Regions from separate parts of the Homo sapiens genome. Here region 1 is linked to region 2. A link means that fine-mapping ties the variant in region 2 to the expression of a gene that starts in the linked region. Tissue or cell type: whole blood. Region 2 holds a variant in brackets; the other region holds the start of a gene. All regions are shown on one strand. Distances are from middle to middle.

The links. PIP is the estimated chance that this variant, and not a neighbour inherited with it, causes the effect.
Region 1: PCNX4 starts here. The variant in region 2 is fine-mapped to the expression of PCNX4 in whole blood (TOPMed, PIP above 0.99).

The regions. Positions count from the first base shown.
Region 1 is chr14:60,087,981-60,098,495 of GRCh38, reverse strand. PCNX4 (pecanex 4) reads right to left here and starts at 6,573. Exons shown (of 11, transcript NM_001330177.2): 1 at 6,077-6,573. PCNX4-DT (PCNX4 divergent transcript) reads left to right here and starts at 6,750. Exons shown (of 5, transcript XR_943918.4): 1 at 6,750-6,793. RefSeq lists enhancers at 3,504-4,088, 3,871-4,165, 5,746-6,379, 6,343-6,532, 6,623-6,752 and a silencer at 3,871-4,165.
Region 2 is chr14:60,161,478-60,171,992 of GRCh38, reverse strand. DHRS7 (dehydrogenase/reductase 7) reads left to right here and starts at 6,595. Exons shown (of 7, transcript NM_016029.4): 1 at 6,595-6,816. The coding sequence starts at 6,684. RefSeq lists a silencer at 6,362-6,631 and enhancers at 6,832-6,881, 7,072-7,131. The variant C/G (reference allele first, on the strand shown) is at 6,465.

The DNA of each region.
Region 1 (10,515 bases), 73 kb after region 2:
AGGTATTCACTCAAATTCAAGACTTTTGGAGGGTTTTTGAATAAGAGTGTTTTGTAAGGTCACAGTGTAAGTTAAAGAGGAAAGAAATACAAAGTGGCTCAACAGTCAAAGACAGGTTTGTTTTGGAGAATAAACCTGAGAGAGGCTTCTGGCTGATTTCAGTCAGGAAAGCTCTCTCTTACAGACTTACAGTATTTATTGGTGACAGAACTTATTACAGGTTTGGAATGTTTCTGCATGGGGGAGAAGCTTATGGTAGGGTTGGAATGTCTCTGGTCAGAAGGGAGGTTATCTTGGGGCTGACATCTCTCCAGCCAGGGGGAAGGTTATCTCGGGGCTGGCATGTCTCTGGTCCGGGAGGGGTTTCGAATGTTTCTGGTCAGAGATGTTGTGTGATTTATGTTCATGCTGACCTTAACCATAAGGCTGATGCCCTTTGGATTTTGGTGGGTTTTGATCAAGGTGAAACTTAAAATGATGGTCCTCGTCGAAGTCGAAGAGGGTGATGCTCCTGCTCTGTCAATCCAGACCCTGTAGTTATAAAAATGACGAGGGGCAGTGTGTTCTTTCTGGCTACTTCCTGCTGACAAGGGGACAGACAGTTTTTGGGTCTTGGATTGACTGCAGAAATAACACTGTAGATGTTTTTGGGTAGTTGTGTGTGAAATGGTCATGAGTCTGTCAGCTAAAAATCTTTGAAAAAGGTTAATTAGGCAGGGTAAGAACATTAGTCCTAGGCATATTATTAGGAGAGGGCCCAGGAATGGGGTGACCCATGCTATGATTCTGCTCCCAAACCAAGAATCTGTCTGGTTGTTTTGGTATTCCCTTAGCTTTTTAGACCTTTAAGTTTTTCAGCAGTCTCTTACTAGGCCTGATTGGTTGAGATAGAAACAACATTCCCTACCTAATGAGAGGCAGAGGCACATGTTTGGAAAGGCCCACATATTATCTTTTGTTAGTAACAGTTATTCCTGCTATGAGGATAATAATTAAGCAAAATGCTACAGCAATTGAGATTCCCTGTCAGATATTCCACCCTGAAGGTGCTATAGTATATAGTCCTACTGCAAATAGTAGAGTAAAGCAATTCCCACAAGGCGTAGTAAATAATTTCCATTATATTTAGGACGTTCCTTTGGGCTCTCAGGGGTTGCTTCCTCAGCTTTCCAGGCTTTGACTCAAGTGTGATGTATCCAGGAGTTGATTCCTGTAACAGATATTGTCTCAATTACCCTGGTTCCGTAGACTCACTAGACATGGGGTGAAGGATTCCGGGCACCCTCAGTTATTAGTTGTCAATGCCAGCAGTGAAGAGATTTCCTTCTGTGATGGTTGGGGGGTTTAGAGGCAGCGCCTGATAAAACATCTAGTTTTCAGTTCATAGGACTTTAAGGAAGCACAACTTATTTTAGAAACTTGTAGCCAGAAAAATCAGAATTTAAACTGTAGAAAATACTAAAAATTGGAAAACATGAGGCAAGACTAGAATTTAACAACAGGTGTGCTACAGTTTTTGAAACATAATTTTCTCTCTCCAGTTTCCCACTTATTAAAAGACAAGTCATGGTAGGACTGGTTTGCTTTACTATACTTGGCTTAATTATTTGGATACAGTACAGCAAGAATAATTATTTGTTACACAGGCCTTTTAAATTGGTATTGATTTATCTGGCTCACCCCTTCATTTGGCCAACTCAGCCAAAATGCTTTGTGTTGGGAGCAAAGAAATCACACCAAGGACCTATGTCCAAACAGTACGAGAGATATGGGGTGGATACCTGGAGAACGCTGTGACCACACTATCATATTACAAGACACTGAATGGCTTGCCACCCATTGGGTGCCAATGATCAGTTATTTATTGGCTAGCTCCAAATGGGACATATTGGCTATGTGGCACTAACTTATGGCCGTGGTTACCTCCAGAGTGGTTAGGACAATGTTCCCTATGTTATGCCTGGGCACAAGGACGAGTAATTCAGACCTGCCAAAACCAGCAAACCTTTTTCATTTACAATCTTGTTGGACACATTTGGTATTCTAATGGTATGACCACTTAGCTTCAATCTTTGTACCACAGATAGGTACTGAAGATGTTATATGGCATATAGAGGCTTTAGTGAATTACTCCCAAAAGGTCCTGAATGATAGCTGCATGAGTATTTCCTTGCTAAACAAGGAAGTCATGCTTATGAGGAAAGCTGTGCTGCAAAACCGTATGGCTTTACATAGACTCACGGCAGCACAAGGGAGGACCTGCACCATCATAAAAATGGAATGTTGTGTTTATATTCCAGATGAATTGAAGAACATAATCTGACTTATGACTGATATGAAAACCCAGATATCTGTCACACCCAAAACCTTCGTTAATCAATCAGTTGAGTGGTGGGTTTGGATCCTGGGAAACTTGGTGACAGAAGCTTATTGCTTATATTAGGAATAATAGTTTGTGTTGTGTCCTGTTTCTGCTTACAGTGTTGTTATGGTTATGTGCCTGCAAATATGTCAATGAACTGAAAGGGCTAGGGTAATGATTCCCTAGAGAATTGCTCTAATTGAGAAGGCAGTAATATAGCCTGACCCAGCTTCCAGGTGTGATTTCCTTTTGTTGCTATAAATCTGGCCTAGGTCCCTATATATTTTTTCTTTTTTTTTCCTTTCCTTTTTTACTTCTTTCCTCTTCCTATTTTTTTTTTTTAACCTTCATGGGACATGACCTCTTAGAAATGAGCCTTCCTAGAGACTGGGGACCTGAACTTCTAGGAATAAACCATCCTAGCAATAAGAAAGCAGCTCAAAAAAGGGAGGAAAAACCAACCTGAGGCCAGGAACTCGTCTTCCTTTTAAAATGCTTTCTCCAAAAGATTTTACAGAAAAAAGAAGGGAAATGTGAAAGGAAATTAAATTTTGGGACCCCAAACTCATTTAGCCAAAGGGAAGAAGTCAAGCTGGGAACTGGGTCATGCAAACCTGTCTCCCCCCTTTTGGTTTCTAAATAGGATGGCTACAAGATGAAAAGCTACACACCTCCCCTATATTTTGCCCACAGGGAAATTCCCAGTGAGCTAAAATTTCATCCTGGCAATGTCAATTGACAGCTTACAGGTGCAGTTACCCCTGGCCCACCAGACATAAATGCAAATCTGATTGTTCCCCTACCCCATTTTGTCTGTTATCTTATGTAAAATGCAGATTCCCCTAATATTTTCCTCTGCCCCTTTTATGTCATCTTATGTAAAAAATGCAGATTCACTGAGCCAAAGGCATAAATAACTATTTGCCCCTACCCACCTCTTACATGACAATTGTGTACTTCTCAACATCCTGCCCTTTCCCCTTTAAATTTGGAGACCTCAAAATCATCTTCGAAGAAAGACATAGACTTGCCTCCCGGGCACGTCCTTAACTTTGGCAAATAAATCTCCTAAAATGATTGAGACTTGTCCCATCATTTTTCTCGACTGACACCCACTATAAATTCCCTGGGTTGAAAAACTTTTCTTTTAAAATCAAGTATCAGGTGAATGAAGTCTGCTACTCACATGAATTACTAGAAATAAATTAATTTATTTTACAAAAAAACCTGAGAACCAGTGATATTAAGTGACTTAACCAAGATACAATGTCAGTTAGTGGCAAAATGAGTTTTTGAATCATACCATGCTATTGCTGTTAGGTTTTTTTTAAAGGGAAGGTGGGAGTTAAAGAAAGATGGGGGTGGGGGGGGGCTCTACAGCAACACAAGTATATTGCAAAAACCTGCAGAGGTGGGGGGTGCAGCTTAATGCCAGAGCCCACTGCCGTTCACAGGCTGGGGACTTATAGGTATGGGCAGGAGGGGTCTGGGCTGTCTGGTTTGCTGCCCGGCAGGATATTAAGATGTTCCTATGATCAGGTGGTTTGGCCCTTTGTTCCAGTTGCAGGGTATGATAGGGACGTTCCTTCAGTTGGGCCTTTGCTTAGCAGGGTATGATAAGGATGTTCTTGTGTGTTGTGGTCAGGTGGTTAGGCAGGATGTTTCTCACAGCCCAAACTCGCCTGGAATGTGTCACTTTGACCAAGGTCTGCAAAATGCTGGGGGACTTACAAAATGGTGCAGTTTGGACTAACAACTGCCAAATGAAAGCGAATTTTGTTTTGATGCTAGAGAACTGGAAGGATAACTTGGGGGAATAGGGTTCTTTGGAGAAAAGTGGGTCCAAGAGGAATCTACAAAGTGTAAAAATGGGACGCTTTTGATGGCTAAGCCAGCATGAGGGGGTTGGTATCCAGTACCCTTTCACAAGACAAGTGAGAAACTGTTTAAAAAACAAGGTTCTCACCATCATGAAAGTGAGAACAACCTATAGAATGGAAGAAAATTTGTGCAAATCATATATATATATGACTTATAGCTAGACTATATAAAGAACTCTTACAATTCAATAATGAGAAATCAAATAATCCAATCTTTAAAAAATGAGCAAAGGATATGAACAGACATTTCTCCAAAGATGATATACAAATGGTTAATAAGCACAGAAAATATAAAATGATACTCAACATCATTACTCATTAGAAAAACACAAACTGAAACCATAATGAGGTACCATTTCAAACCTCCTTGACTGGCTAAAATAAAAATGGCAGACAATAATAAGTATTCATGAGACTGTGGAGAAATCAGAACCCTCAAACATATCTGGTGGTTATGTAAAATGATACAGCTCCTTTGGGAAACAGTCTAGCAGTTCCTCAAAAGGCTAAACATAGAGTTACCATATAACCCAGTAATTCTACTCTCAGGTATACACCCAACAGAGATAAAAACATATATGTCTACACAAAAATCTGTACACAAAAGATTCATAGAAGAAATATTACTAACAGCCAAAAAATGAAAACAACCCAAATGTCCATCAATGAATGGATAAATGTGATATATCCACACAATGAAATTAGACTATAAAAAGGAATGAAGTACTCATACATTCTACAACATGGCTGAACCTTGAAAACACACTAAGTGAAAGCCCGTTACAAAAGGCCACATATTGTATTTTCCCGTCTATGTGAAATGTCCAAAATAAGCAAATTTATGGGGACAGAAAACAGATTAGTAATTGCTTATGGCTGGTGGGGTAAGGATAATGGGGGGAGGGAGGTGGTGACTGCTGAGGGTAAAAGGTTTCTTTTTGGGGTGATGAAAATGTTCCAAACTTGACTGTGGTAAGGGTTGCACAATTCTATAAATGGGTGAATTGTATTGAATGTAAATTACATCTCAATAAAGCTCTTAAAAAAGAAAAAGCTTCCCTGATTGGTATTTTCCACAGCAGTTAATAATTAGAAGGCAGCTCTTTAAGTAGGAAATTTAGGAGCAGCCAACAGATGCTACAAACAGTTAAATTCGTGAAAAGGCAACATCTGAACTGGATGCTATGCTAAAGGTCTGGGGATTTGGCGTGAGTGGCGGTGGATACCAAATAACATGAAGGGCAGTCTTTGCCCTAACTGCAGGAATGATTTAATGAAGAAAACAAACACCTAAAAATAGTAAAAAATGAGTAAGTGAAAAATGATGGATACAGAGCAGATAACCAATTCAGCGGCATGGAAAACAACTTCCGATTCACTGGAGTAAATTCTGGTCCTGGAGAGACAAGAGGTTGTGGGGACAGAGGTCGAGATCAGTGGGGAAGGAGCGCTTCACGTTCAGGGGGCCATGAGTTGAACAATTCGGACAAAAGAGGTTTAGTTGGAGATATTGCGAGAGTACAGTTCTACCTAACGGACACAGCTCCGGGTGGGTGTGCCATATTCCATTTCGTACGAGTCTCTTAGAAACAAAATGCTACAATTCAACAGGCTAAAGTAGTCTTTCAAAGGAAAGTTAAAATCACACTGAATTACTATCTCTAATGACTGAGTTCATTAAGCGCAATAATTGCACTTAAAGGTTTTGCAACGAAAAACGAAAAATATGTTTCTTGTGGCAATGAAAGCCCCTAGAACAACTTGGCTCTCCGCACAGGCTTGGACATTAAGATGCCGAAGAAGTCCCGAGGTGGACGTCGGACAACGAACGTACCTCAAGTCACCCGAGGGAAGAGAAGACGCGAAGGCATCCCAGGGACCGCATTTTTGCAGGTAAACTCGGGCTGGGCGCTCCCGCCGGGAGGTTGGTTAGTGCCCGAATGCGGAGGCAGAAAAGCTGCGGCGGCCGAATAACGAGCTCACCGCGGCCCCGCCCGGGCCAGCTCTCGGTTTCCATGGCTAACGTCTACTCCGGCGGCCGCCACCCGGAGCTGAACGGAGCGCGTGCGCGTTCGGGGACCTCGTCGGCGCCTGGCTGGCCTCGCTGCCCCGGTCTGTGCTCGCTCCCGAGGCGGGCCCTGCCGTAAAGCAGGCTTGGCCTAGAGGAAGCAGGGAAATAGCGCGCTTCGTTCGCGCCAGGACTAGGCCAACATCTGCCTGGCCGGGGACGACGGGAGTCGCTCGTGCTCTGGTCTCGCACTGGGCCTAGCAGAAGCAGCAGCGGGGAAAGCCGAGACGCCCTGAACGTTCCCTTGGGCCGGGCCTTTACGCAAGAGCGTCGTTGCCCTGGTGACGTGACGTCCTTCCTCAGGATTGTGCGCCGGGGTGGGGAAACAGACGTGCAACCGCCATTTTGCGCATTAATTTACCAGAGGTCGGGTCAGGCTGTCTTAACGCAGGCAGAGGGGTGTGGCAGATCTCCAACCGCTCGGGGTCCCGTGATTTCCATTAATGAATTCGCACACTGGCGTTACCACTCAACACACCGACGGTAATGAATGTTTTTGAGTGATACTTCATGCAGCCTATTCGGCTTGGACGATTGGGGACTGCATAACGTGATCGCTATCGCCTCAGTTTGTGGCTGCGTTTTAAAATACAAGGAACCAACATGTCCATTATAGAAACGTGTTATTAAGATATTAATAAAACAAGGCAGAGTTCCGGCGTTCCAATTAAAAGGCCATGGCTGATTCATATTAGTGTGGCGGGAATCTTTACAGCCTGGCCGCAAAGACCCCAATTAACGCTAGTTAAAAAGTTATCCCTATACCCAGGGCTCACCTCCCCCATTCTCCACGAAATATGATCCCCCCCCCGCCCCACCAAGTTCTGGACACGTTCCAGATTGCCAACTGGGAGTCCTCAAGACGGCCCCGGAGAGCGTTAACAATGATTGGTCTCAGCTGATTTAGAGGCTCGGGTAAGGGAACTTTGAAGCTAACTTGTCGGTATCAAGGTACCCGCAATTCCCCCATGTGATTGGGTAGATGCCCTAGCAGTTCTGCACACTTCAGCGTCCAAGATGACTTGTGGACTGTTTTGTTTGGATCTCCATTCCTCAAAACTATAAATGCGGCCTTAATTTTTTTTTTTTTTTAATTCTTGGCTCTTGGCTGTCTTGGAAATGCTGACTTTGTATTTAAGTATTTAGGTTTTCAGGTCGTAATAGAAAAATAATTACTGTGTTCATATTAAAAGCCAAAGCTTTATTTATTTATTTTTAAGATATTGTGTCCAGAGCAAAAGTGTAGTGTGTTGAAAGCATGTGGAAGAAAACCCCGGATATACATATACTTGTCTTCAAGGACTTAATTTGCAGGTAGACCCTTTCATAGTTTGGTATCTTCACGATTTGATAGAATATGGGAAAACGTGCTGTTGGTCCATCCATAGTTTTTCTCATTGAAGCTCACTCATTGCGGGTCAGAGTACCACATTAAGCATCTCGGAAGCATCACTTACCGCCAAGAAGTCTGAGTTTCATGTAATTAAGAGTGGAGGCTCCAGAGTCAGGAAGTCTGGGTTGAAACCCTGGCACTACTGCTTACTACTTGTGAGATCTTGAGGTTATGTAATTTCTCTAGTGCTCAGTTTCCCCATATCTTGTAAAATAAGGCAAATAATAGAACTTAACCCGCAGAGAGTTATGTCATTGGATTAAATCAAATAATTGTAAATTGCTTAGCAGAGTAAATGGCACAGCTTAAGTGCTTAGTAAGGATGAGCTATTATCTTTATGTAGAGAGTCTGTATTTATGCTTGTTCTTCTCATGGGCATTACATATGACCCAAGCAGAATTAACATGTTTATTGTTGAAATATCTGCTGTTTTTCAAATATATTTGAACATCGTGCTTTCTTAGAATAAAATTAGTAGGGCATATGGTACAAGCCCTTTGGTTAGCTGTGTATAAAATATTCATTCAACATTTATTGAAATAGTGAAGGGAATAGTGGTTCCTATTTGTCAGGAACTACACTAATTGCTGCAGATATAAAGTCAAATAAAACATGATCCTTAAGGAATTTACCAAAATATAACTTGGACATCAAGGACATAACTTGAACAACAAGGACATCAGTAATTACAGTGTATGTGATAAACAGGTATGCGCTGAGCTTCAGAAACAAAGTGGGACACATAATTCTGGGGAAATTAAGGATGGTTGCAATCCATTTTTAAAGGGTGAGTGGACAGCTGGGCCAGGCGTGGTGGCTCTTGCCTGCAATCCTAGCACTTTGGGAGGCTGAGGTAGGAGGATCGCTTGAGCCTAGGAGTTTGAGGCAACATGGTGAAACCCTGTCTCTACAAAAGATACAAAAAATTAGCCAGGTGTGGTTGTGTGCGCCTGTGGTCCCAGCTACTCAGAGGCTGAGGTAAGAGGTTGTTGCAGTGAGCCGAAATTGCACCACTGCACTCCAGCCTGGACAACAGAGTGAGATCTTGTCTCAAAAAAAAAAAAACAAAACAAAAACAAAAACAGAGTTAGCTGGGAGAAGAGGTATTCCAGGTAGGGGAACATTTATTCTTTAATTCATTCAACACATACTTAGAGCATACATAGAATCAGTACTTTGTGTACCTCATTTAATCTTAACCTTATGAGGTAGCTTATTATTATTTCAAATGTAAGGAATCTGAGCTTGAGAAAAGTAAAATAAGTGATGACATCTGGAGTTGAGTCCGTATCTGTATGTCTTCAAGATTCGTGTATTTTTTCCTACCCTGCTGATTCACATAAAATGAAACAAATTGTGAAAAATCTGGAACTGCTGCTTCAGCCAGAGAAGATGTTTAGCCAGGCATTATCATGACATACGTGTTATTGTGTAATGGTAATGCCCGTTTTCAGTTCATACCCAAGTTAACTTCTCTTGCTAAAAAGTAAAACAAAAGCAAAACCCACACCATAAACCCTCACTCTGCCTTGTTCCCAGAGACCACTGGCCAGAAGTCTCTGAAAATAATGCAGAGCTGCAGCACTAGGTATGGGCCAAAGAGAAGGCAAAATCATGCTCACAGTTCCGGGTGCCTTTAAAGAAACACAGGAGGAATAATAGCTTTGGGAAGAAAGATAATGAATCTACTTTGAGACCTGTGTGTAAGGGGCTGATGCGATATTCAGGTGCCTATGCCCAGTTGGAAATACAGAATTGGACCTATATTACATATTGACCTTGGGAGAGAAGTTAAGATGTAGAATATTCAATAATTTTTTTTAAAAGATTGTTGAAGTAATAAGATTGGAAAAGAATGTCAAGGTTTATATCTTAATGGGACAAGAAGAAAACCGAAGAAGAAAAGGACTATAAAATAAAAAGATTGACTTATATGGCTTATTGAAAGTCACTGTATCATAGATCATGATATGCATCAAACATCATGTGAAAGGACATGTGATGAGTAGAAATTTTAGAGTGTCTGAGCATGTTCGTGAGATTTGGGTTGGGCAAGTTATGAGTTATGAGAATATTAAAGACAGGACGTGCCCAATAGTTAATTACAGTGTTTCATATTGAAACTTTCTTTAATATAGAAACTTTCATATCCCATAAACAATCATAAATAGAACCATCAAATAAACAATATATAATGTAATCATAGCTTTGCGATTGGTTGGTCTCAAGCTTTACTCTAAGATACAATATATTTCTTTTAAATTGCAGTTCTGAAAAATTTACAGTAATTACTGATGGGGAGTGTATGATAAAAGAATAGTTTCAAATTTTGGTTATGATAAAGAATTTTTAGTTTTCTTGTATAGCTCTTAAATTTCACTATTATTCCACAGCAATAACTTCACAGATGAGACTTTATTTTAGAGGTGTTCCAGTTGATATTATTTTGGAACATTGTAACTACTGGAAACTTATTTTGGATAATTGTTTAAAAAAACACAGGTGTTTAAGAAAGAACACAGTAGAATTATTAGTAGACTGGAAATCAGTAAATTGGAATATTTAAAAAGCTAGACTTTAATTTTTTAAATTATGTTACATTTTGTAAAAATTTTAACTTCACTGAAAGATCAAATTTTAATGGTAACAAAACTGTAAACATCTGTCATGCCAGACCCCATTCACTTCAGTATGGATGGCACCAGGTTCAAGAGGCCAAATAGAGACCCAGAGCCAGCAAATGAGATATATAGGGTTTATTGAAGGGAACTTACATACAGAGCACTACAGTGGCAGTGGGCTGGACAGAAG
Region 2 (10,515 bases):
TTTAAATCTACTTAATCCGTCAACAACTCACCTCTGCAAGCATGATTCTGGAAGCCAACCCAGCAGCGAAAACCCCTTGCTTGTGAAAGCAAACCACCTGGGAATGGACTGCTTCAATGAACACACCACTGAGTGCCAATCTACTAAAGTCTCACTCAAGTAACTACAGTTCTTCAGCTGACATCAACCTACTCTGCCAGTCACCAAACTCCATGCTTCTGCAGAGCTGTATTAAGATCAGTTCCCTGATCTGCTTAGAGAGACTGGGCCTGGTCAGCATAGCTCTCCCTTATATACCTAAGCAATAAATTCAGCTTTATTTTTTGTTTATTGTGATGGTCTGAATTGTGTTCTCCTGAAATTAATATGTTGAAGTTTTAACTCCTAGTACCTCAGAATGAGACTGTATTTGGGGATGAGCTTGTTAAAGAGGTGGTTAAGGTAAAACGAGGTCATGTCAGTGGGCCCTGATCCAATATGATTGATGATGTCCTTATAAGAAGAGGAGATTAGGACACAGATGCACACAGAGAAAAGACTATGTGAAGACAGGAAGAAGACGACCATCTGCTATAGCAGGACGAGCCACAGACAAAACTCCTTAGATACCGGGTTAAAGAAGGAAGGAGCTTTATTCAGCTGGGAGCTTCTGCAGACTTGCATCTCAAAAGCCGAGCTCCCTGGGAGAGAAATTCCTGCCCCCTTTAAGGGCTTACAACTCTAAGGTGGTCTACGTGAAAGGGTTGTGATCGATTGAGCAAGCATGGGGTATGGGACTTGGGCTGCATGCACCGGTAATCAAGACAGAGCAGAACAGAACAGAACAGAAAATTTCACAATGCTTCTTCACACAATGCCTGGAATCTATGGATAATACAAGCAGTTAGGTCAGGGGTTGATTTTTAACTACCAGGCTGGAGGTGCTGCAGTGGGCTGTCTGACTATTGATCTTATTTTTGCCTTTCTGTAACTTTTGAATTCTCTTTCTTTTTCTGAGGTATGAGACAAGGAGAGGGGGTGGTCTTCAAGTCAAGGAGGGGGACCTCAGAGGAAACCAGCCCTGTCAGCACCTTGACCTTGAACTTCTAGACTCCAGCACTGTGAGAAAATAAATTTCTGTTGTTTAAGCCATCCAGTCTGTGATATTTTGTTATGGCGGCCCTAGAAAATTAATATATTAATGTTTATTTTGGATATTGAGGTCTCTAGACACTAGAAATCAACATCAAAATTCTTACCAAATGAAGGTAATGACCCTGGACTCTGCCTGAGCACTTCTGTCTCCAAGTAACAGGCCTCAGTGCTGTGCTTGGGCTCCTGGCCCACAGGTTAGTGGTTTTCACCTGGACCTCAGGTTGGTTGCAGAGGCAGGCCACATCCTTAGGGTAGGGGATTTACCTATGGGGGCACAAATACATTCCTTAACATTTCTCGTAAGCTAATTTTAGTGGGTCTCTGCCATTTGCGATTGAGAGTACCGACTGATTGAGACATTGGTACCCAGAAGTAGAGTGCTAGAAATGAAATATCCTAAAATGTGAACTACTGTGTCAAGGTGGAGTAGGAGGCAGTGAGGCTCTCTCCATCTCCCTCCATCCCTGGGTGGGAAGTGGGCAGTCTTTATGATATGGTAATGAAGCAGCTCATTAAGATGTTATTGTAGTTTCTTTGGGATTCAGACCTGTACATACTAAGGTAGAAGCTTCAGGGAATCCAGCAGAACAAAATTAGGCTGCTCTGGTGTGAGAGGCAGTATTATATGGTGGTTCAAGAGCAAAGACTGAAATTAGACTACCTAGGTTCAAAGACCCTGTCTCCTAGCTGTGTGACCTAGGGCAAGTTACTTAATCACAATTAAGCTTCCTCATCAGGGAAATGGGAATTAAAATAGTACCTAATTAACTGGATTATTGTGAAGATTAAGGGATTTAATATATATAAAGCACTTAGAATAGGCCTGGCAATTAGAAAGCATATGGACAGGTTAACTCTTGTTGTCTTGGTTACTTCTTGTGGCTCCTGTCAAGATCCTACTAGAAAGAGATAAGCCTTGGTCTTAGATAGCTGGGAACAGCATACGGCTTTGTTAAAAGAGATCACGCTCCTCACTGCTCTCATGCCCCATCTCAGCAGACAGCAATCCAAGACTGCTTAGGGTTCGGAATTACAAAACCAAATTCCCTGCTAAGGCTAAAGTTGATCTGAACAAAAGTAAGGGCAAGGCAAAGAGAATAGACATTAGACAGGGACCTGAAAGGATCCAGAAATGGGACTTTACATCCCACAGAGGAAACAGGTAAGGTGTTTCCATACAGTGACAGAGAATAGATCAGTGGCTGCCTAGGGAAGGGGTGGAGGATGGGTGGATTTCAAAGGGTCACCCCTTTTGGGGGTGATTGAAATGTTTACCTTGATTGTGGTGATGGTTTCACAGGTGTATATATTTGACAAACTCATCAAGTTGTATACCTTAAATATGTGCAGTTTCTTGTACTCGAATTATACTTTAGTAAAGGTATAAACAAGAGAGAGCAAGAGGTAGAAGCTGCAATAGCTTCTGTGACCTATCCTTGGGAGTCACACACTCATCATTTCTGCAGCATTCTGCTGGTTACAGTGATCAACCCTGATACAACCTGGGAGGGAAATACATGGTGGTTTGCACACAGGAGGTGAGCATTGTTGGATCCATCTGGGGGATTTCTGGCCATCCCTCTATGTGGAGAGAACAGTATGTACAAGGCCTTGAGGTGGGCTGGTATTCCAGAAAGCCTTAACTGATTAACTCTACTCACCTCTGCTGAAAAGTTGACTGTTACTTGGTGCAATGGTTTTTTTTTTTTTTTTTTTTTTTTTTTTGGTTTCTTTTGTTTGTTTGTTTTGTTTTTTTAAGACAGGGTCTTGCTCTGTTGCCCAGGCTGGAGTGCAGTGACACCATCAGTCTCGGCTCACTGCAACTTCTGCCTTCCAGGCAGTCTCAAGCAATCCTCCCACTTCAGCCTCGGTGCAATGTATGTTAACATATCATCTGTCACATCTTCCAAAATTTGAGTCCCAGGTTCTCCAAAACTTCAATGGGTTAGTTAGACTAACCACTTTCAATGCCTAAGTGTTCTAATATGTCAAGTTCTCCTCTGACCTTATGCTTTGGTTTATGAAGAGTGAAATTATGAGGAGTGTCAGCATGTTTGCAAGCCAATGGGATGGAGTATGATTTAAGAAGCAAGAAAGAATTTTGTTTTTCTTAAATCTGAGACCATAAATTTCTGTTCACTCTGCTTATCTCCAAGGCTGGTCCTGGCTGGAGAGGGGAGAAAAAAGAGAAGGAGAGGAAAAAGCATTGATCAGTTTTAGAATTTTAAGAAAATATTTGCATATTTTAAGAAATTTAACCTAATTTTTTTAACTTTTTACTTTAAAATGATTATAGATTCACAGGAAGTTGCAAAGATGGAACAGACGTGTACTCTGTACCCCGTTCTCCCCACTAGTAAATTTTACATAATTTTAGAACAATAACAGAACCAGGGAATTGGTATTGGCAAAATCCACAGACCTCGTTCAAATTTCACCAGCTTTGCATGTACTCATGTGTGCATGAGTGTTTGAAGTTCTAGATTAGAATAACAACCACCACTACTAAATCATGGACAAGATATATAAAGGGAAGTTTGAAACAGAGCATTTAAGGGAGAGAGAATGAGAGCTATAAACTGCTTATGTTTAAGAGACCCAAGATACTGTGGAAATTGGCTAATCTAAACAAAATATCAATGCACTGATATGGGGAACTGCATGTGGTGAACAGTGCAGTGAGATATTCCTATTGAGGGATCCCATGAGATTACTAAAGGTAAGAAAGTAAGTTATATTTTCTTATAAATAAGACTCTAGGTAAGACCTTGTCTGCCTGAAGAATATCAGAAAACTAGACCATGACCTGAACGCTTGTAGCTGGGGTACAGCCAGGCAGGTGTAAGCCAGAGCTTGTGGAGGGAGGCTGCTAATAGATTGCAGAGCTCCTCTCCACCGTGGCCAGGTTGCAGGATTTCTGAGTAAGGGTGCTGTGAGCTTTTGGGGCAGGGCAATTCTTTGTTGGGTATGTCTTTACATAGTGCCCAGATCGTTAGCACTCTGATGACACCCTGGCTAGCTGGCACTATGGCCACTGTTCATCCAACACATTTCCAAAAGCATCTAAGGGATGTGAAAACATCCTCAATCAAAAACCACAAACCCCTTATTGTTCTTGAGGAAGAATATTCCCTCCCTAGATTCCTCAGTCCCTGTTTCCACTCACAGTTTCCACTCACTCTTTTTTTCCCCCGCCTAGGGACTGCCGATCTTGGAGGATCTGGATTTTTAAAGTTATTTTTGTATAATGCTTTTGTTATGGAAGATGGCAATTGCTTACGCACAACTGCCTTCATCTTAGCTGACCTGAATGGGCCTTAGCTGCCATGAATGGGCCTTAGCTGCCATGAATGGGCCTGACCCCAGACCATCAAAAGTGACCATTACTAAAAGGAGGGAAGGCAGGGTACCATTCTATTACATCTGGAATTAAAAATGAAGGTTACCAGTTATAGAAAAGACTTTCGGACTTTATTCAAAGCATTTTAATAATACTTAGAGAAGATTGATTTATTAAATGCTAGCAACTCTCATTTTAACATTAACTTCCGAACTTCAAGGAGGTTTTAAAAAATTGAATTTTAATTTTTAATTTTTGTGGGTACACAGTAGGTGTATATATTTATGGAGTACATGAGATACTTTGATACAGGCATACAATGTGTAATAATCACATCATGGTAAATGGGGTATCCACCCCCTCAAGCATTTATCCTTTATGTTACAAACAATCCAATTATACTCTTCTGGTTGTTTTAAAACATACAACTAAATTATTATTGACTATAGGCACCCCATTGCACTATCAAATACTAGGTCTTATTCATTCTTTCTATTTTTTGTATCCGTTAACCATCTCCACGTCCCCCCCAACCCTCCCACTACTCTTCTCAGCCTCTGGTAACTATCCTTCTACTCTCTATCAAGGAGGTTTAAATTTCAAGGAAAGGAGAATTCAATCAACGTGGGCTTATTGCTTCTCATGTCAACACTAAGCTATGTATTCCAGACTCTTCAAAAGAAGCATCAGATTTGCTACTTTATTTCAAGGATTCTAAAGTTCCATTGGAACAATACTATATTAACCCTGAAAATAATTAAAAAACAATTTCAGATATAGTTCAGAAGTAATTGTGAAAAGAGGTGAGATTAGGGAAAGATGACTCTGAGTCCAGATAACCCCAAAAAGCTTTTTAGAGAAGGATGAGGGTGGGGAGGCAGGTAGGGGGTTTATAATAGGATTTAAAAAGAGAAGGAAGAGCTATTTAAGGAAATTTGATTACTGCAAGTAACATTCTTCAAAACATTTAAAGAAAAACAAAAGTTTGGCAGGCAAGACTAGAAAAAGAAAACAACACTGGGGAGGGAAGTCACTGCTTCTTTTATTTCCATGACTGTTTTAAAGTCATATTTAGTTTCAGCCAAGGAAGAGCCTTTGACATCAGAGCACACAAAGTACTCTAGGAAATGAAGAGGATGAAAGTTCTACTGCATCAACGCCCAGAACTTTCTCCATTTGGCCACAGGTCGTTCTCATACATGGCCTAGTTTCTATGCACTCTAACTGGGTCCCTCTGAGGCTTGTGAATGGAAAACCCTCTTGCTTTCAAATGCTTGAAAACAAGAAAGATGCTACTATTGATGCCTCAAATACATGTAGGTATTTAGTGGGAAGCAATTAAATGTTTTGAAGGTCATTTCAAACGGAAATTAATCAAAAACAGTATTTTACTCTTTTGTGTATTAGAGTAGGCAAGACCTTGGTGTTTTCATTACATTCTCTGTTTTTATTTGCTGTTTACATTAGGATGTGAATAATGGCTTGGGTAAGGGGAGGATTTGGTACCAACCTAGGCTTTGGTTGCCAAACAGACACCAGAGTAAATTTGTGTGTGGTCAGAATCAGGTTGTAAGGTGCCAACACAGCACATGGCTTCAGTCTTTTTTTCTCTAATTGTAAAAGGACCTTGTCCCCATGGAGGGACCATTGCCTTGGCTTGTGGGGTCTTGAGTGATAGCCACAGTCTTTCTTCAGCACTTTCTCGACCTCATGAAAAGATACTGAAGCTTGAAAAGGGGATGTTCTTTCTGAATAGGAATGGAGAAGAGGGGCCAAGCAAGAATGATTCTATCTGTCTCCTGGCCGTTGATAGTGTCCCTGTACAGAGAGGAAATAACGTAGTATAATATGTAGCTTATGTTTGAATCAGCTTCTTTAAAAATACTGGAATTTTATTTATTTATTTTTGGTAGACACAGGGTTTCCTCATGTTGCCCAGGCTGGTCTCGGACACTTGAATTCAAGCAATCTGCCGGCCCCGCCGGGTGTG[C/G]CGCATGAGGGCGCGGGCCGCCCAAGGACCGCGAGTGGGGCCGCGAGTGCTGAGCCCGGCGCGCCCGAGCCGCTCCTCCTCCCGGCCTGCTCCCTGGGCGGAGCCGGGGCAGTGCGGCTCTGGGCTGGCCGAAGGGGTGGCGCTGCGATCCCGCAGGGCAGCGACGCGACTCTGGTGCGGGCCGTCTTCTTCCCCCCGAGCTGGGCGTGCGCGGCCGCAATGAACTGGGAGCTGCTGCTGTGGCTGCTGGTGCTGTGCGCGCTGCTCCTGCTCTTGGTGCAGCTGCTGCGCTTCCTGAGGGCTGACGGCGACCTGACGCTACTATGGGCCGAGTGGCAGGGACGACGCCCAGGTGAGGACCGGCCAAAGCCTCTCCCGAGTGGGAGGCCGGGCTCGGAGCTGCCGAGGCGTGTCCGGGTCTCCGGGGGTTCTGCAGTGATCCCGGGTCCTTTGTGGGTTGCGTGGAGCTTCCCGAAGGCCCGGCTGCCCCTTACGCAGGGGCTGCGGGTTGGGGAGGAAGAGGCGAGGGCTAAAAAGCCCCTTTGTCTTCTGTACTGGTCGGAAGATGGCATGGACTTGCCATTCAGGCTAGGAAACCTCTCCAGGGAGTGCCAAACTGTTAAGAGAGCACTGGAGTCGGCGGTGCTCCTGAGGACTCTGACATCTTACGCAGGACTCAAGGGATTCTGGTGTTGTCTCAGAGGACGATACTTTGAGAAACAGTGAGCGTCCCCCTGCGTTTGTAAGGGAAACTCCTTTGTAAGTACCGGAAGCCCGGTCGTTCTACTACCTGAAGTAGTCTGTCCTCCACTTCCCACTCCTGCAGTTTTGAAATAAAATCTGAGATAATCCGAAGTCCTTCACCTACTTACTCATTCTAGTCAAACACTAGAAAGAACTAAAAATGGCAGTTTGCTGGAGCGAGATCATTATTGGCATACTGCCTATCTCACTTTATCTGTGTCTTGCTTAATATTTGACATCGTGTACATTTGCTGTATGTTGGCTCAGCGCTTTACACACATAACATTTAACTTTTACAACAACTCTTACAAGGTAGGCATTATTAATCTTATTTTCCAGATAGGGAAACTGATGTTCAGAGAAATTAAATGACCTACCGAAAGCTAGGCTTTGGATCCTTAAGGACTTGGGGAAATGGGGTTTCCCTGGACCAAGTTTCTGGTATAAAAATACTCAAAGCATGTTACAAAGTTTGCTTGGAAGAGATAGTAGCTCGAAAGATAGACTATGTTTGGGGGGGGCGTTATGGGTTGGGCGTTGAGGGGGGTGATATTGATCCCAAGGTGAGAATTGGTTCCTGTGGACAAAAAAAAAAAAAAAAAAAAATCTGGTAATACAGTGGTTTGTGCCCCTCCAAAGCTTAACCCCACCCGAGAAAATATTATTCCTTAGTATTTCATTTTTCTGGTTGGGTTTTCTTGGGTATAGCATGTGCAGCACTGACATTGAGTTCACGAAAAATACACAACATGGACGCCACAGCAGTGCTACAAAACTATGGCAAGTGATTGGGCTTTCTCCTTTTAAAGCAGGAATCCCAAATACTGCACAACTTCATTAACCAAGGGCTTTCTCTTGATCGATTGTTCCACCTCAGCGGGGGAATATGTGTGCCTATTGGCTGCCATTGGCTGCCTTGCAGACGTTGTTTGTGTTTGATCTTTAGTGCTTTTGTGTTCACTTGGACTTGGAGAATTAAACGAAAATAGATTATATTTTATTATTTAATCCTACAAAAAATATTCAACCCATCAAATTATGTCAAGTGCTAAAAAGCAAAATTATTGACAACATCTGAATGAATATCTCTAAGCTACTAAGTTAAAAGTTATTTTCTCATATTAAGGAAAAGTTAAAAGTTAAGATCATTGAAAATTTTAAGAAATTCATTTAATATTTTCAGTTGTGTTTTGTCGGAAAAGAACAGTTTGAAGGATTTTAAATTTAATTACATTGTTATCATTATGTAGTTATATAATTTGCAAATTTGCACATGTAGTTTGATAAATTGCTATTTATCTAAGTAAGTTACATAAAAGTTATTCAGCAAAAATCTGGCGTGGTGGCATGTACCTGCAATCCCAACTACTCTGGAGGCTAAGGTAGGAGGGTCATTTGAGCCCAGGAGTTCAAGACCAGCCTGGGCAGCATAGTGAGACACTGTCTCAAAAACCATAAAAATGTTTTTCAGCAAATACAGTTATAAAGTTAGAAGTTAATAACTTTTAAATTTTAATTTAACATTTAACTTAATTTTAAAATTTAGTCATATGCTTATTTAGTCATATGCTTATTAACTAAGGAGTAAGCTTTTTTTCTTTTTCTTTTTTTTTTTGAGACAGAGTCTCGCTCTGTTGGCCAGGCTGGAGTGCAGTGGTATGATCTTGGCTCACTGCAACCTCTATCTCCTGGGTTCAAGTGATTCTCCTGCTTCAGCCTCCCTAGTAGCTGGGATTACAGGTGCGTGCCACCACGCATGGGTAAGTTTTGTATTTTTAGTAGACCTGGGGTTTCGCCATGTTGGCCAGGCTAGTCTCAAACCCCTGACCTCAGGTGATCCACCCCGCTCTGCCTCCCAAAGTGTTGGGATTACAGGCATTAGCCACTGCGCCTGGCAGGAGTAAACTTTATAGAACTCCTTTTATGTATAAAGCACAGATATATGTACAGTACATAAATGATATACAGTATATCTGTGGAATTAACATTTCACAGGAGAGTTTTAGGGGAAAAAAAAGTCTAAAAAGACTCCTGGTGGAGGTAGGGAGTGAGAAAGAAGAAAAGATTAAAGGAAAATTGAAATAGACTCAGATTCCCAAAACAGCTCAGACTGGAGAGATGGGCAGACTCTATCAAGATGAAAAAAGAAAAAAAAATCCTTCTTGACTTCTCTGTAGGTTTATTATTTTTTGTCACTTAAAAAAATAGCACACTCACATAATACAAAAGTAAAAATACAAAAAGATATATAGTAAAAAGTAAAGAGCTTTCTCTGACCCTTGTGCCCTAGCTACCTAGTGTGCTTCTCTCGAGGCAGCCACCATTTCCTGCCTCCTCTGTATCCGTCTAGAGAAATTCTGTGCATTTCCAAGCATATATCTCACATGGTGATTTTTTTTTTTTTTTAATAGAGAGACAAGGTCTTGCTTTGTCACCCAGCCTGGAGTGCAGTGGCATGATCATAGCTCACTGCAGCCTCGAACTCCTGGGCTCAGGCAATCCTCCCACCTCAGCCTCCCCAGTAGCTAGGACTACAGGTGCAAACCACCACACCTGGATATTTTTAAACTTTTTGTAGAAACAGGCTCTCACTATGTTCCAGGCTGGTCTTGAACTCCTGGCCTCAAGTGATCCTTCCACCTTGGCCTCTCAAAGTGCTAGGATAACAGATGTGAACTGCCAAGCCCAGCCACATATGGTGAAATTTAAGGGTGACTAATTTTAGACATTAAAATGGTCCAGAAAAATCCATGGCACAAGTCTAGAGGAGGAAAAATTTCAACAGCAGCACATGTGAGCAAAACTCAGGTTTTTGTTAACAGTAACCTCAATAGGAGTCAACTGTGAAGTGGCTGCCAGAAAAGATCAGGCAACCTTGGGTTGCATTTGTAGACCTCAGTGTCTGAAGCAACAACTGCAAACAACAGATGTCTCCTGACTAGCTGCTTGTATGTGCCGGCCTCTGTGCTGGGGCACTGGGGACACTGCAGTGACTGAATCAGCCACAGTCCAGGCCCTCATAGACCCTACCTTCTGGGGGACAAGGGAAGTGATTTTTGACATCTCATCCTGCTCTGCACTGTCCAGACCCTACCGAATCCTGTGTCCTGCCCTAGCCAGCTCCCTTTAATAAAGAGGAACATTAACCAACTAGAATTGGTGCAGGTGGGTGTGAGCAGAAGAGTGAGGAAACCTGATACCATGTCATGTGAGGGAAGGTGGCAGAAATTGGATAGGTTTATTTAGCCTTAGAGAAGGTAAGAGATGAAAGGACTTAGGGAAGACATAATGGCTGTCTTCCCTAACA